2 separate regions of the Homo sapiens genome follow, and region 1 is linked to region 2. A link means that fine-mapping ties the variant in region 2 to the expression of a gene that starts in the linked region. Tissue or cell type: nasal epithelium. Region 2 holds a variant in brackets; the other region holds the start of a gene. All regions are shown on one strand. Distances are from middle to middle.

Region 1 (8,175 bases), 41 kb after region 2:
AAAATGAAGACAGAAAATGCCACCGGGGTTCCCAGGAAAAAGAGGTTCATTTGGGATGGGATGCCAGGGTCTTGAGAGGAGCTCAGACATGAGAAAGGTCTTGAAAGAGGAGAGGGATGGAAGAACCAACCAGGAAGGTGGAAGAGGATGAACTAAGGGGCCAAGAAGGAACGCGCAAAGCATGCTTGGGAGATAAGTCTGGCTAGAACCAAGGGTTCCAGGAGGGAGGAGAGTGGCGATAAGGCTAGACAGGCAGGATGCTGAATGCCAGGCGAATGCACCGGGATTAGATCCACTCCCTCTTAGTCAGTGAGGATGACAACCACTGCAGGCTGGGCCCTCACGGCAGAGAAAAGAAGTCTTGTCCTCTCTTGTTCCAAGCATCTTAGTCCAGTCTCCTCCACGAGGTTATAAATAACAGCCACCGTTTACTGCACACCTGCTGTATATGAGGCCCTGAGCTACGTGCCTCACATACATCAGCTCATGGCTCCTTCCCAACACCCTGAGTACTTGGTATTGTTATCCTCATTTTGCAAGCAAGGAGCTGAGACTAAAGGAGGTGAAGGCATCCGCCCAAGTCCCAACCCACTCACTCATTCACTTAACAGTGCTGGCTGGCCCTGGGGTTACAGGCCTGCGAAAAGGGGGCACTCCCTCCAGCCACCCCAGGTTCAAGGGCTTCCCACCTAAGCTGGGCTGCTTCTCCACAACTCTCCCGATTAATTCCTCAAGGTCAGCATTTACTAAGCACACAGCAGGAGCTTAATAAAGCACACTAAACAGACAGAATAGTGGCTGCCAGAGGCTGGGAGGAGGGGGAAACAGTTGTTTCAAGAATATTAAAGCTTCAGTTTTACAAGGTAATTTCTGGAGCTGTCGCACAACAATGTAAATAGACTTAATGCTACTGAACTGTACATTTAAGAATGGTTAAAATGTACACTTAAGATTTTACATTTGCCAGGCGCGGTGGCTCATGCTTGTAATCCCAGCACTTTTTGGGGCCGAGGAGGGTGGATCATGAGGTCAGGAGTTCAAGACCAGCCTGGCCAACATGGTGAAACCCCGTCTCTACTAAAAAAAATACAAAATTTAGCCGAGGGTGATGGCGGGCGCCTGTAGTCCCAGCTACTGGGGAGGCTGAGGCAGAGAATTGCTTGAACCCGGGAGGCGGAGGTTGCAGTGAGCTGTGATTATGCCACTGCACTCCAGCCTGGGCGACAGAGTGAGACTCCATCTCAAAAACAACAACAACAAAAAAAAGATTTTACATTCAGTGTTTTTTTAACCACAATTTTAGAATTTTTTATATAAAGCACACTTCCTAATTGATTGAGTGGCTGCCAATATCTTACACTGTTAATTATCTGATGCTGGAAGAGACTCTAGAATATTTCTAATCCAATATACCACCAAAACAGAGAGTTGGAAAGAGGAGGTAAATTGCCCAAGGTTGCACAAATAGGTGGTGCCAGGTGAAGACAAGGCTCAACATAGAGGAAAGGGGCTGGGCGTGGTGGCTCACGCCTGTAATCCCAACACTTTGGGAGGCCAAGGTAGGAGAATTGCTTGAGGCCAGGAGTTCAAGACCAGAGACCAGCCTGGGCAACATAGCACAACCCTGTCTCTACCAAAAAAAAAAAAAAAATTTTTTTAATTATCTGAGCATGGGGCCTGTACCTATAGTCCCAGCTACTCGGGAGGCTAAGGTGGGAGGATCACTTGAGCCCAGGAGTTGGAGGCTGCAGTGAGCTGCTTGTGTCCCTGTGCTCCAGCCCAGGCAACAAAGCAAGACCCTGTCTCTAAAAAAAAAAAAAAAAAATAGAAGAAGGGGCTAAGTACGGTGGTTCATGCCTGTAATCCCAGCACTTTGGGAGGCCAAGGCAGGCGGATCACCTGAGGTCAGGAGTTTGAGACCAGTCTGGCCAACATGGCGAAACTCCATCTCTACTAAAAATACAAAAATTAGCCAGGTGTGGTGGCGGGCACCTGTAATCCCAGTTACTTGGGAGGTTGAGGCAGGAGAATCACTTGAACCCAGTAGGCAGAGGTTGCAGTGAGCCGAGATAGTGCCATCGCACTCCAGCCTGGGCAACAAAAGCAAAAGTCTGTCTCAGAAAAAAATAAATAAATAAAATAGAAGAAGGGCAGAGAGGCAGATGGCAGAATAGATGGCACAAGGCAGGAAGGTCAGAAGCCAGGGTTCAAGTTTTGCTTCTTTCACTTAATGAGTGTTGTGACCTTAGATAAGATACTTATTCTCTCTGAGTATCATTTTCTTAACCTATAAGAAGGCAATTAAAAGTAACAAACTTCAGCCAATGCGGTGGCTCACGCCTATAATCCCAGCACTGTGGGAGGCCAAGGCAGGTGGATCACTTGAGGTCAGGAGTTCAAGACCAGCCTGGTCAACATGGCAAAACCTCATCTCTACTAAAAATACAAAAATTAGAAGGCGTGGCGGCACGCGCCTGTAATCCCAGCTACTCGGGAGGCTGAGGCAGGAGAATGGCTTGAACCTGGGACGCGGGGGTTGCAGTGAGCTGAGATCCTGCCACTGCACTCCAGCCTGGGCAACAGAGTGAGACTCTGTCTCAAAAAAAAAAAAAAAAGTAACAAATTTCACAAGATTACGTATGAATTAAATAAAATTATATACAGCTAATGTAACGTGCATAGAAAAAACTTGGCCAACTATAAATTACTTTATCAACACTAGTTATTGTTATTAATATTAAATATCTGTTCATAGGTTTAAAAAGCTCTGCCAGAATATTAAAATCTGATTAAACCAGACCAAAAAAAAAAAAATCCTACTCTCACCTGTTCAGGGACTTGCACACAGGGCGTCTTCAGTGAGTGAGAGTAGAACTGAATTACACTTCAAGTTTTATCTACCCCAATCCTCTCCCTCCAACCCACAGCCCAGCTGCATCAGCCATGCCAGGACCAAGCCGAGGGTAGGAAGCCGGTGTAATTGTCTGCCTCTCTGGCTGCATTCCTTAGCTAAATATAAATGATTTGTCCAGGCTATTGTTTGAAATTATCCATAATCCCTCTCCTCCCCTCCCCATTACTTATGATGGCAAGCTGGCTGCGTATCTCTATAGCAAAGCATATATTCAACATTCTCTGTGGCTATTTTCAGTAAAGAGAAGGGAGCTGGCAGGTATATATAGGGATCCTCGCATGAGTCTTCAGTTTTCTCCACTAGTCCAGGAAAGCTTCCTGGAGGAGGAAATACCTGAGTCACCCCAGGGAAAAGGACAGCTGCAGGTCAGAAGGGCACGCGCACATAATGAGAGACTGGGTCTCTGAACTAAGAGTTACCAGGTAAGGCAGGTAAGCCCCTGCCTTCTTACCCCCCGTTTTGGTGATGCGAGAAAAAGGTAGCTCAGGGGATCCCATACTAGCCCAAGCTTCCCCAGACAAAACAGGCATTTGGGGGAAGATGAAGCAGTGACTCGTATATTTTTCAAAGAGGGAGGAGATCCAAGACTCCAGTTCCAAGATGTACAAGTACAAATATTGCTCTTACAACAACAAGCCGGTTTCTTGTTTGGATCTTTTTTTAAAAACCACAAGAAAGTTTTTTGAAGTCCCAAACTTGAATGCACAGATGGGCTAGATCTCCAACTTCGGGATGTGCCAGAGTCCTGTCACTCGGAGTGCTGATCTTCCAGCAGTGGCCCAGGGAGCGGTCGCGGGTGCCGGGGGGCTGCAGGCCATATCCCAGCCCTGCCCGAAGGCCCCCTGGCCCTCTCTGGGGTCCTTGTATGGACTGTCCCAAGCGGTGCACGGGGTCACACAGTCGGAAACCCTTGCCGGCCCCGGGTTACTCCCTTTCTGAAACGGTCTTCCTCGGAGCCATCCCCTGGAGGACCCCACTTCGCTCGGTGCCCGGGCCCCGCACCCACCCTCCCCTTCCCGGCCCGCTTCCCGCACGGCGCCTACTCTGTTCCTCGTCCTCTCGTCCCACCGCCGCCCTGCCCACACTGCCTCCCGTGGGCGCCCCCGGCCGCTCCCCCTTCTCGGGTCTCGGCCTGGGGGTGCCCAGCCCGCCCGGCGCCGGCTCAAGGCCGCGCGACTCCGCACGCTCTCGAGACCCGCCTCGCCGCCCGCCGCCCGGGCCGCACTCACCGCGCCCGCAGGACCTGGGGGTCTCCGCTCTGCTCGCGCTCCGGCACCGCCGCCGCCGCCGCCGCCAGCGGAAACAGGGGGCGGGGCCTGCCCGGGAATGGCGAGCCTGCGGGGCGGGGCGGCCCGGGGGCGGAGCGGGGAGGGGCGGGGCGGAGCGGGGAGGGGCGGGGCGGAGAAGGATCGCAGGGCTGAGCGGGGCGCCAGCGCCAGTGCCCGGCACTGCCCCGGGCTGGGTCCCCTGCGTTAGAGGAAGGGGAGCCCGGGGACGGGGCACGGGGCCCGCGAGGCACGGGTGCTCTCTCGGGGTTCCGGAAGCCTCCCTCCCCGCCCCGCCGCCCGCATGCCCGGACCGGCCGCTCCTCCGAGGTGCTATGATCCCGCCTTCCCCCTGCGGCGAACGGGCCTCTTCCCGGGGTAGGGGCGGGGAGGTCCGGGCCTGGCAGTGCGCTCTCCTGGGCTCTGCGCCCACACGGCACCCAAGGGCCTTCCTGGCCCAGGCCTCGGCTCTCTCCCTCGCGCCAGGCTGCCTGGCCTCGCCACCCCACCCCCACACCTACGAACCCCTTCCCTGGTGTTTCGGGCGGACTGTGCGAGATGCTGACAGCGCGGGTGTGTGTTGGAGCCTGCCTGAGACACCTCCCGCAGAAAGGGCCATGCCTCCCCAGGAGCTGGCGGCCTCCAAGGGCGACTACAGGGCACCGTGTGCCTGAGGGGTGCGCTAAGGCAGGAGAAACTCCAGCTAGGCATGTCTGGCCCGGGCGCTTTTTCAGGCCTGGATTTTATGTGTTTTTTGCTTTTTGTTTTGTTTTGTTTTTTCTTGAGACAAGGACTCACTCTGTTGCCCAGGCAGGAGTGCAGTGGTGCGATCACGGCTCACTGCAGCCTCGACTTCCCGGGCTCAAGTGATCCCGCCTCAGCCTCCAGAGTAGTTGGGACTGTAGGCGCGCACCACCACGTCCGGCGAAGTTTTTGATTTTTTTTGTACAGACGGTGGTCTCCCTGGGCCCAAGCTGGTCTCAAACTCCCGGGCTCAAGCCATCCTCCTGCCTCTGCCTCCCAAAGTGCTGGGATTATAGGCCCGGATTCTTAAAGCTAGAAGGCCTAAACTTGTTTCCAAAGAGCACTAAAACGCCATCTCTTCTCATCATTACTGTCATCAAAAATGTCTTCTAGGCCAGGTGTGGTGGCTCACGCGTGTAATCCCAGGACTTTGGGGGGCCCAGGTGGAAGGATTGCTTGAGCTCAGGAACTCAGGAATTCAAGAACAGCCTGGGCAACATAGGGAAACCCCATCTCAAAAAAAAAATGTTTTAATTAACCGGGTGTGGTGGCACACCCCTGTAGTCCCAGCTGCTCCGGAGGCTGAGGCTCAGGCGTTGGAGGCTGCAGTAAACTAGGATCATGCCACTGTACTCCAGCCTGGGCAGTAGAGGGAGACCCTGTCTTTAAAAGTGAAATTTTTTTAAATTTTAAAGAAACTGTATGCTGTGCTTCCCACGTGCCCTACCATTGCACTAAGCTTGACTGGGGACAAGTTTTTAAAACCTGGCTATAATCACTAGGGTCACTTTTGCTTTCTGCTAATTAGACTGGAAGTTTCCACTCATCTTCTGGGCCCCTTTCCGTCACACACATGCAACCTTGTTTTTGTCTATTAGACTAAACCCATAACCCATTTCCTTCTGATCTCCCTTTCCCCACAAGGAAAATATTCTCCTTCTACATTTTGCTTCATCCAAAGCCCTGTTCAATGCCCCTATAACAAAGTCTTCCCAAGGAACCCCCACCAGCCCCAATCTCTCCAGTCACTGCGGCAGAGTTGGGTACATGTACCCAGAAAAGGAAACTGGGTCTCAGACAGGGAAAGAGATATACTAGGATTGTCTGCCAGCAAGCCAACTCACTGGCAGACCATTGGACGCAGCCTGGTGAGGGAGTAGCCGCAGGGCTTGGGAGCCAGACACACCTGTCTGAATCCTGGCTCTGCTTTTATCGGCTGGGACCTCTTCAGGCCTGTTTTCTCACCTGTGGAATGGGGCATAAGAATACCAATTATGGGGATGGGCATGGTGGCTCACACCTGTAATCCCAGTACTTAGGGAGGCCGAGGCGGGTGGATTACCTGAGATCAGGAGTTTGAGACCAGCCTGGCCAACATGGTGAAACCCCGTCTCCACTAAAAATACAAAAATTAGCCGGGTGTGGTGGCACATGCCTGTAATCCCAGCTACTCGGAGGGCTGAGGCAGGAGAATTGCTTGAGCCTGGGAGACGGAGGTTGCAGTGAGCCAAGATCGTGCCACTGCACTCCAGCCTGGTCGACAGAGCGAGACTGTCTCAAAAAAAAAAAAAAAAAAAAACCAATTCCACAGGGTTGATGGGCTGACCAAGATGATGGAGTAAAAGCACAACATGTGATGTGTGGTGACTGCTCTACAAATGCTAGCTTCCTCCTGCCCTTTTTGGTTTTTGTTTTGTTTTGTTGTTTTTGAGACAGGGACTTGTTCTGCCACCCAGGCTGGAGGGCAGTGGTGCCATCATGGCTCACTGCAGCCTCCAACTCCTGGACTCAAGGATCCTCCAACCTCAGACTCCTAAGTAGCTGGGACCACACGTGCATGCCACCATACCCAGCTAATTGGGGTTTTTGTTTGTTTTGTTTTTGTTTTTGTTTTCGTTTTCGTTTTGTTTTGTAGAGACAGAGGCCTCACTATGTTGCTCAAGCTAGTTTTGAACTCCTGGCCTCAAGCAATCCTCCCACCTTGGCCTCCCAAAGTCCTCCTGCCCTTTAAAAAAAGATAGGCGGAGCACAGTGGCTCACACCTGTCATCCCAGCACTTTGGGAGGCCAAGGCAGGTGGATCACTCAAGCCCAGGAGTTCGAGACCAGCCTGGCCAACATGGCAAAACCCCATCTCTACTAAAAATACAAAAATTAGCCAGGTGTGCATGGGCGTGGTGGCACATGCCTGTACGGGAGGCTGAGGTGAGAGGATTGCTTGAGCCCAGGAGGTCAAGGCTGCAGTGAACCATGATTATACCACTGCTCTCCAGCCTGGGTGACAGAGTGAGACTCTGTCTCAAATTAATTAATTAATTAGAGCAAATCTGAAATAATGGAATTCTGAAGTCTTAGAGATAGATGAAATCTTAGAAGAAATCCCTCAGCAATAGCCCAGAAAATGGCTTCACTGCTCACTCTCCTTCACCACATTCAGAGGTGAATGCCTCAGTGCCTCTGAGGGGCTGACAGTTGGAAGGAAGCTCTGAAGAAAAGCTGTAGAGGAGATGGGATTATTCAGCATAAAGGACACAAAGGTGACTAGTGGTCTGTGAAGCAGACACACTGATAGTGTCCACTGAGGACTAAACGCAAGTAAACCTGACAATGACGCACCACCCTCTTGGGGAAGGGACTTACAAACGCATGAAGTCACTGCTTATCATACCAGGCTTCTGAGGAAATGTCATTGCATTTCCCTTCTGGAGGAGATTCTGAAAAATGCTGAGGTTAGATATAGGTAGGGTGACTGTATCCAGGTTTCGGGGGCACATCCTACTTACTCCTCTTGTCCTGGCATAGTTCCTAAGTCCCCTTTCACTCTCGAAATATCCTGGCGTGGATGATAAATTATATGCCATTTTAACTGTGAACAAAGGCAGGACTCCAAACAGCTCCTTCCAGGCCTGGATGTCAGCAACTCTGCTGGAATTTCTGGATCCCCAGGGACTTCAAAGGATAGCATGTCAGTTTATCCCCTTGAAATCACCAAATCAAATCAAAAATGACAATAGGCTAAAATTAAAGTCCCAGCCAACCACCCCAAGTCAAGCTTCAGGACTGTGCCTGCTGAATTGCGACACCTAGTGGCGAAAGTGCACGCTGCCGGAGCGGGGTTCCGCCAACACTTCACATTCGGCCATAGGTTTCAAGTGACTTGCAAAGCAGCTAACAGCTAACATGTACTGTTTATGTGCCAGGCACAGTTCTAAGTACTTTACATGTTCTAACCCACTGATCCTCACAACAACAC
Region 2 (8,175 bases):
TTCAGAAAGGACATACTGTGTAGCAAGAGGACAGTTTTTCTCTGGACTAAAACATGAGCAACATCCAAAAGTGGACGCCACCTCCCTGCAGGAGCACATTCAGACAGATGCGGGGACTCAAACCTCTCTGTTAAGAGGGGTTCTTGCCAACTTCCTTATCTATGGTCTCCTAGGCTCAGACAAAAGATTCAAAATCCCTGCTAGGATTTAGAAATAACTCAGGGCCAGGTGTGGTATCTCACACCTGTAATCCCAGCACTTTAGGAGGCCAAGACAGAAGGAGACCAGTTTGAGACCAGCCTGGACAACATACAAACAAAAAAAATTTTAATTTGCCAAGCATGGTGGTGTGTGCCTGAAGTCCTAGCTACTCAGCCGATCAACGCTGCAGTGAGCTATGATTGTGCTACTGCACACCAGCCTGGGTGACAGAGCAAGACTCTATCTCCTTTTTTTTTTTGAGATAGAGTCTCACTCTGTCGCCCAGGCTGGAGTGCAGGCTCACTGCAAGCTCCACCTCCCGGGTTCACGCCATTCTCCTGCCTCAGCCTCCTGAGTAGCTAGGACTACAGGCACCCACCACCACACCCGGCTAATTTTTGTATTTTTAGTAGAAATGGGGTTTCACTGTGTTAGCTAGGATGGTCTCGATCTCCTGACCTCGTGATCTGCCTGCCTCGGCCTCCCAAAGTGCTGGGATTACAGGCGTGAGCCACGCGCCCGGCCAACTCTATCTCTTTTTAAGACAAAAAACGAGGGGAGGGGAGGGGAGAACTCAGAAAAACAGCAGGATGGTTCACAGTTTAAAGTCAGACAGACTCAAGCTGGAACACTGTCCCTAACAGTAGCTGTGTGACTGATACAGTATAACATCACAGCCTTCAGTCAAGGTTTGCAAACTCAAGTACCTACAAGGTGGAAAACATAAATTCATGAAGTTACTGTGTACAAGGGCAAGTCCCAGTACTGTGTCAAGACTGAGGGGTCAGGAAAGCACAGCCCCATGTGGAGGTGGTGCCTGAGAGCCAGATCCAGCCAATTGTTGCCACCGGGCAGCACAGGCTCAGTGTAACTAGACCTTCCAACTTTAAAAAGCCAACATCAGCCAGGTGCAGTGGCTCATATCTATAACCCTAGCACTTTGGGAGGCCAAGGCAGGAGGATCACTTGAGCTCAGGAGTTTGAGACCAGCCTGGAAAACATAGTGAGGCCTTGTCTCTACAAAAAAAAAAAAAAAAAAAAAAAAAGTTTTAATTAGCCAGATATGGTGGCATGTGCCTGTGGTCCCAGCTACTCAGGAGGCTGAGGTGGGAGGATCACTTGAGTTTGGGAGGTCGAGGCTGTAATGAGCTGTGATCACACCACTGCACTCTGGCCTGGGCAACAGAGCAAGAACCTGTCTCAAAAAAAAAAAAAAAAAAAAAAAAAGCCAACATCCCCTGTTTTGAAAAATCTCTCCAGTATGTCAGCTGCGCCCAAACAAAACGCATCTGTGGCCTGGATCAGACCTAGAGGCCACTGGATTGCAACCTCAGCTCTAAGCCTGAGATCTGCAAAATGAGGGCAAATAAAAGAGCCTCGCTCTGGGAGAATGAGATGGGATTAGGTCTGTCAAGCATTTCACACCGCCTGACACACAGAAAGCACTTGATAAATGGTGACTATTAACTATGCAGAGTTGGAAGGGACTTCAGGAAGACCCACCCCAACCTTCTCATTCCACAAGATGAAACTCAGACAGGTCCTGTGACTGAGCCACAACCTGCAAAGGAGCCAGTGGCCAGTGGCAGGCTGGACCCAGGCCTACTGACTCCCACCTGAGTTCTGAAGGCCCAAGCCGCCTCTCTGACTTACAGAAGCAGTTTATCACCCACCACTCCGTAAGGGTCCCTCCTGGGGGCTGGTCTACCCCATTATGGGTAGCTCCCCCAAGGGAAGTGCTGTGTGTACATCTTTTTCATTCACTGGAAGAGCTCGGCCTCACCTCGGGCAGGTGATGGGGGCTTGGTCAACATTAACTGACTGACTGATCAGCGGCAATGCTCCCCTAGCCCTCCCAGCCCCACAGTCCAGTTTACACTGTATGTGGTCCCTGGCCCAGGCCCGTGCCAAGCTCAACTTCCTGCCCTAGCCCAACCTGGGCTAGTGGAAAGGAAACGCTGGGCATAAAAGGAAAGAGGTGACATCAATAGGTAGAGAGATGAGGAGGGGACAGGGAAGGGCTGAGCTAAAGAAGGCAAGCCAGAGGGACATGACGTGTATTTGGGGCAGGGCCAGAGTGAGGGCTGGCACAGCTGGGGAAGAGAGAGTGACGGGCTGGCACAGGAGTGGGGAGAGCAGGCTCCAGGGGAAGGCTGTGGCTGCTGGTGGCACAAGGGTCCCCAGACAGAGGAGCTCTGGCCCTGCTGGGTTTCTGTCACCCAGGTCCTGCCAGGTTTAATCAGCCAGGTTCCAAAGAGCCAGCTGTGTTCCCTGAGGTGAATGAGCACGCCAAGGTTGTGTCCTGTCCCCAGGCCCCCAAGATCCTGTTCGAACTCGTTCTTACTAAAAAACTTTCCACGCTTGAGGGCTCAGGGAGTTATGGCCTTGGAATTCCTCCCACTCATTCCAAAGCATACATTAAAGCTTTCCAATTAACACCAGCTGAAAAGTAAACCTTCATTTTAAAGAGGCAACAGAGGAAAGGAAGAGGGAACGAGTGGGCAATGAATTTCCCAAGCAGGCATCTGAAACCGCGGAACTGCTGGGCTGAAAGGACCTCCAGGATCATCTGGCACGAACTCCTTGCGCTACAGAGAGGCACCCAGGCCCAGAAAGCAGAGTGACGTGCACATGGTCACACAGCCAGCCCATGTGGAGCAACACCAGACTCCGGGGCGCTGGCGGCCAGGCCCGTGCCCTTTGAGTGACAGGGCACCGTACTTCCCCTCCTGCCCTAGCCCAACCTGGGCTAGGGCATATTCTCACCTGGGAAGAGCCAACACCTCCCCACAGGAGCAAAAGCCCAAAGTCACCCACACCTTTCAGCACAGGTTTCTCTCACCTGCCAATGGCTCACTCCCTTCCCCAAATCAAAGGAGGTGACCTGAAAGAAGGGAGAAGCGGGGTGCACAGGATGTGGTCAGTGGAGAGGAGCGGGGGTGCATTCACAGCAGAGAGGCCCTCCAGTGAAGCACACAGCCCTCCGGGCAGGGGCAGGACGGGCTGAGAGGATGGGGAGGGAGAGAAGGCCAAGACTTCCTGCAGAAAAAAGCACACACAAACATCACACGGGCAAGGGCATTTCACAACGGAGCTCCTGGAAGGCAGGGGCTGATCTGGGAGTCCCAGCAGGCCTGGCGAAGCTCAGACCCAAGTTTCCCCACCTGGAAAGAACACGGACTTTGGAATGCCCCAGATTTGAGTTTACATCCCTTTTCTGGCATCCAAACTGGATGACCCTGGGGAGTCAGTGAACCCCCCGAGCCTTGTTTTTCTCACCTATAAGTAGATGTCTAGTGCAGCACCTGATGCATCAAAGGTAAAGCAGGAACTGCTGGTTATTCAAACCACTGAGACTTCCCTCCTGGTATCTTATCCACCCTTGGCCACTTTATAAGCATCCTGAGGGCAGAGAGCATAGCAGCTTGTCCAGTGTGGGGTCAGGGAACCAGCTTGGAGAATACCCATTTGTGGACTGACTTTCTAAACAACATTCCCCTACCTTCGCTGTCGGGGGTACAGCCCAAGGGGTTGCATCTGCTGATAGTGTCCCAAAGGCGGTGCTAAGCTCCATTTTCACCCTACTCCATCCATACTCCAGGGTCCCTGTGGACAGGGCGATCTCGGTCCTGCGCCCACAGCTCTCCCACACTGTCCACCGAAGTCCTGCCTGTCTTTGCAACCTGCGTGCCAGGCTTAACATGTCACCTGACCCTCATCACATCTCTGGAGGGGCCGGAGGGAAGAAAAGGAGGCGTAAATGTTTTCCACAGGTCACAGATGATGAAACTAGGCAGAGAAATTAGGCTGCTGCTACCTGGCAGTCAGCATAAGCCCAATTCACACCATGGCTGGGAGTGGGAGAGACCCACTGGGCACAGCTGCAGGGAGGGAGTGCCAAGGAGGCCAAGGGCTGCAGGTGCAGTGGGGCTGAGCTGAGAGGAATGTTTCCCCATGTTTGTCAATAAATATAAAATAAGTATCCCTGTTCCATTAAAAAAAAGAGCAGAGAGGGGTCTGGCCAGGAGCGGTGGCTCATGCCTGTAATCCCAACACTTTGGGAGGCCAAGGCGGTCGGATCATCTGAGGTCAGGGGTTCGAGACCAGCTTGGCCAACATGGTAAAACCCCGTCTCTACAAAAATACAAAAATTAGCCGGGCATGATGGTGGGTGCCTGTCATCCCAGCTACTCGGGAGGCGGAGGCAGGAGAATCACTTGAATCCAGGAGGCAGAGGTTGCA[C/T]GAGCCAGGATCATGCCACTGCACTCCAGCCTGGGCAACAGAGCAAGACTCCATCTCAAAAAAAAAAAAAAAAAAAAAAAACGGCGGGTGCAGGGGCGGTGCGGAATCAGGTAAATGTGATAATGCAGCTGTTAGTGCTGGAAATGAGGATGAGGATTTTCTACATGCCGGGGGGGTTCTACATGCTTCACGTATCAACTCACTTCACATTTGAATAACCTTGTGAACTAGAGCCTTTATAATCCCCACTTCACAGGCGAGAAAAAGAGTCTTAAATAGCTTCCCATGTCACATAACTGGAGAGTGGCAGGCCCAGGAGGGGAACCTGGCATGGGGCACTAACCACCTCCCTGCACTGCCTCTTACCACACATGCCTCCTCCACCTTCAGGCCATTCCCTTCACCTCCCAGCCCTGAGGTGACAGCTCCGCAGGTCCCAGGACCAGCAGCCACTGCCTCCCAAGGTGCTTCCTCTCGCTGGAGGGGTCCGGGACCTGGATCTGCTCAGGGGATTGGACAACTGCTCCAACCCCCTAAATCAGGCCAGAATTCTCCTGGGATGTGCTGTTCCCATAGTCTCAGGTTCCCAGAAGAACAGATGGACAGGAGAATTTCTGAATGAGTAACTAACCACAGAAAAATAAAGTTATGTAAATCAGCCTGGAGCACAATTACAAAGAAATTAGGGATGGCCTTTCCAAAACTCAGCCTGAGGAAGTGGGAGATACCCAGAATGTGTGCTGCCTGCCCCGGGGCAGAGCTGGGCCCACGGTGGGTTTCCAGGCTGCCCCTCTTTACAAAATGATGAGGTTTTTACCCCACGGGCAGCAGCAGAGGGACCGCTAAGCACTTGGATTTCTCCCACCAACGGAAGAGACAGGCCCTAGGATACAAAAATCGGGCAAATAGTCCCACCACTTCCTCTCCCCTCCCCTTGTTCTGTTTCTGCTGAAGTGCTTTTATTAATGAGCCACTCGCCACAATCTCCCTCCTGCAGCTTATAAAACAGAGTCCAAAAAATGTACCACCGACTCTGCCCTATCAGGATAGGAAATGACGGCAGGAAAACTCAAAACCCTCCCATCACAAGCCCTTCCAGCAGAATGGGTCACCCTTGCAACACCCATCAGGAAACCTGGATGACGAGGAACCGTCTGTGCAGCCACCCAAGACAGCCTGGAAAACAGGAGGGGAAATGGGGACAGGCCTTAGCTGGAATTTTATGTTTTCCATAATTTAGAATGAGACTATCTATCCTGCTCGACTACTTCCTTTCCTAAAGCCATCCTGCTTGTAAAGGTGAAGATCTGTCACCCTGAAAGGCTTAATAACTCTTCTGACACTCAGTTTGTGTCTGTCCCCTATGGGGATGTCCCTCTACCCCTCAGAGCCACCTCGGGCTGAGGATGAGTCCAGGAAACAACAAACAACCACCAAGCCAGAATGCGTCCAAGGGCGGCCACAGAGGTAGTGGGGTTTAGAAATGAAGTTATCTGAGAAACAGCTGATGGAACTGGAGAAGAGACAGAGGGGTTCTGTTGTCAAATACTCCCAGGTTGTCATGCGGACGACAGGGCAGGCGCGCGCTCCCGGGCTCTGACGGCAGAGGCACGGCCAAAGGATGGCTCCGGAAAGGCAGGGCTGAAAACCTGAGCTGTGCAGCAGCAGGGGGCAGTTCTCATCAGCAGAAACAGCCAAGCAAATGCTGGCCACATGACGGGAATCCAGTGTGAGGGTGACCTACGGGGACCCTTCCTCCTCCAAGGGCCTCTCTTTACCTTACAACAATCACAAGCCCTGCCGAGCTGCGTGACCTCAGGACGGAGGGCTCTTTCTCGGTTTTGAGTATCGTTTATTCTAAGTGCTCAGGAAGTGCATTATCCCCAGCACTTCACAAGCATTGCCGTGTTTCATCTTCATCAGAACCTAGTAAGACAAGTACGATGCCTGTCATCACATGGTAGGTACCCAAAAACATCCCTTTTACCAATGAGAAAACTGTGACTCAGAGAGGATTCGCAGCTTGCTAAGGTCAAATGTCCAGGCAGCAGCAGAACTTGTTTGTGAACCCCAGTCTGAAGCCCCAGGGCCTGCATCCTGATCTGCTATGCAGCTTATAGGGGCAGCAGCCTTGGTCTTGAGAGACCTGTTAAAGAGTTGGCAGGCTGTGATCAAATGCAACAGGGACATCACTAGCAGGGATCAAGTTGTTTTCCCAGAATGCTCAATAAACATACATTGCTTTTACAAAAGAAAATAGCGAAACTTTTATCTAAATGATCAAGTTCAGCCCACTGTCTTGCAATCAGAAATGTGTCCGCTTAAGAAGTAGTTAGCCAGTCAAAAAGACAGACAGTAAAAAGGGTTGTTAAAAAAATAAAAATAAAGGTTGTCTGCAAGGATGTGGAGAAACTGGAGTCCTCACACACTTCTAGTGGGAATGTAAAACGGTACAGCTGCTTTGGAAAACAGTCTGGAAGTCTTTAAACAGTTCAACACACAGTTATCGTATGACCCAGTGCTACAGACTGAATATTTGTGTCCCCAAAATATTCTCATGTTGAAATCCTGGGCCCCAAGGTGATGGTATTAGCAGGTGGGGCCTTTGGGAGGTGATTAGGTCATGAAGATGGAGACTTCAGGAATGGGATTGTGCCCTAATTAAAAGGGACCTCAGAGAGCTCTCTTGCCCTGTTTCCACTGCATAAGGATATAAGTTTAGAACCCAGAAGAGGGCTTCACCAGCACCTGACCATGCTGGCACCCCGATCTGGGACCCCCAGCCTCCAGAACTGGGATAAATAAATGCCTATTGTTTATAAGCCACCCAGTCTGTGGGACTTTGTGATATACAGCAGCCTGAGCTAAGACCACCTGCAATTCCACTCCCAGGTATTTGCCCAAGAGAACTGAAAACATATGGCCACACAAAAGCATGGCACATGAACTTCACAGCCACATTATGTCTAAGCCAGAAAAGGTGGTAATAACTCACAAGTCAGTCAATGACGAATGGGTACAGATAAACAAAATGTGGTCTGTCCGTATGCTGGAATATTACTGAGCCCTAAAAAGGAATGGAATTCTGACACGTGCTACAACACAGATGAACCCTGAAAACCTTATGCTAAGTGGAAGAAGTCAGTCACAGAAGACCACATATTGTATAATTCCATTCATATGAATGTCCAGGGTAGGTAAATCATGGAGACAAAAGATACATTAATGGTTGACTCAGACAGGGAGAAAAACTGGGGGCAGGGAAGGGGGGCATGGGAGTGATTGCTAATGGAGTTTCTTTTGGGGGTGATAAAAAGGTTCTAAAATTGACAGTGCTGATGGTCACACGCTGAGAATATAGTAAAAACCACTGAACTGTCCTCTTCAGATAGACAAACTCTATGGTATGTGAGTAACATCTCAATAAAACAAACCTGTTGGCCTTCTTCCTTAATGTTATCAGATTACAGGGAATCTTTTTTTTTTTTTTTTTTTGAGATGGAGCCTCACTCTGTCACCCAGGCTGGAATGCAATGGCGCAACCTCGGTTCACTGCAACCTCCACCTCCTGGGTTCAAGCGATTCTCCTGCCTCAGCCTCAGGAGTAGCTGGGCTTATAGGCACCCACCATCATGCCTGGCTAATCTTTGTATTTTTAGTAGAGGTGGGGTTTCACCACATTGGCCAGGCTGGTCTCGAACTCCTGGCCTCAGGTGATCCACCCGCCTCAGC

The links. PIP is the estimated chance that this variant, and not a neighbour inherited with it, causes the effect.
Region 1: it holds the start of TSPAN9, and the variant in region 2 is fine-mapped to the expression of TSPAN9 in nasal epithelium (TOPMed, PIP 0.90).

The regions. Positions count from the first base shown.
Region 1 is chr12:3,073,422-3,081,596 of GRCh38, reverse strand. TSPAN9 (tetraspanin 9) reads right to left here and starts at 4,218. Exons shown (of 9, transcript NM_006675.5): 1 at 4,144-4,218. RefSeq lists silencers at 4,113-4,612, 4,663-4,712, 7,929-8,078 and an enhancer at 7,860-8,154.
Region 2 is chr12:3,114,606-3,122,780 of GRCh38, reverse strand. The region is part of intron 2 of TSPAN9 (tetraspanin 9); the gene reads right to left. Among named protein-coding and RNA genes, the nearest start is that of TSPAN9-IT1, 31 kb to the left of the region's middle. The variant C/T (reference allele first, on the strand shown) is at 4,444.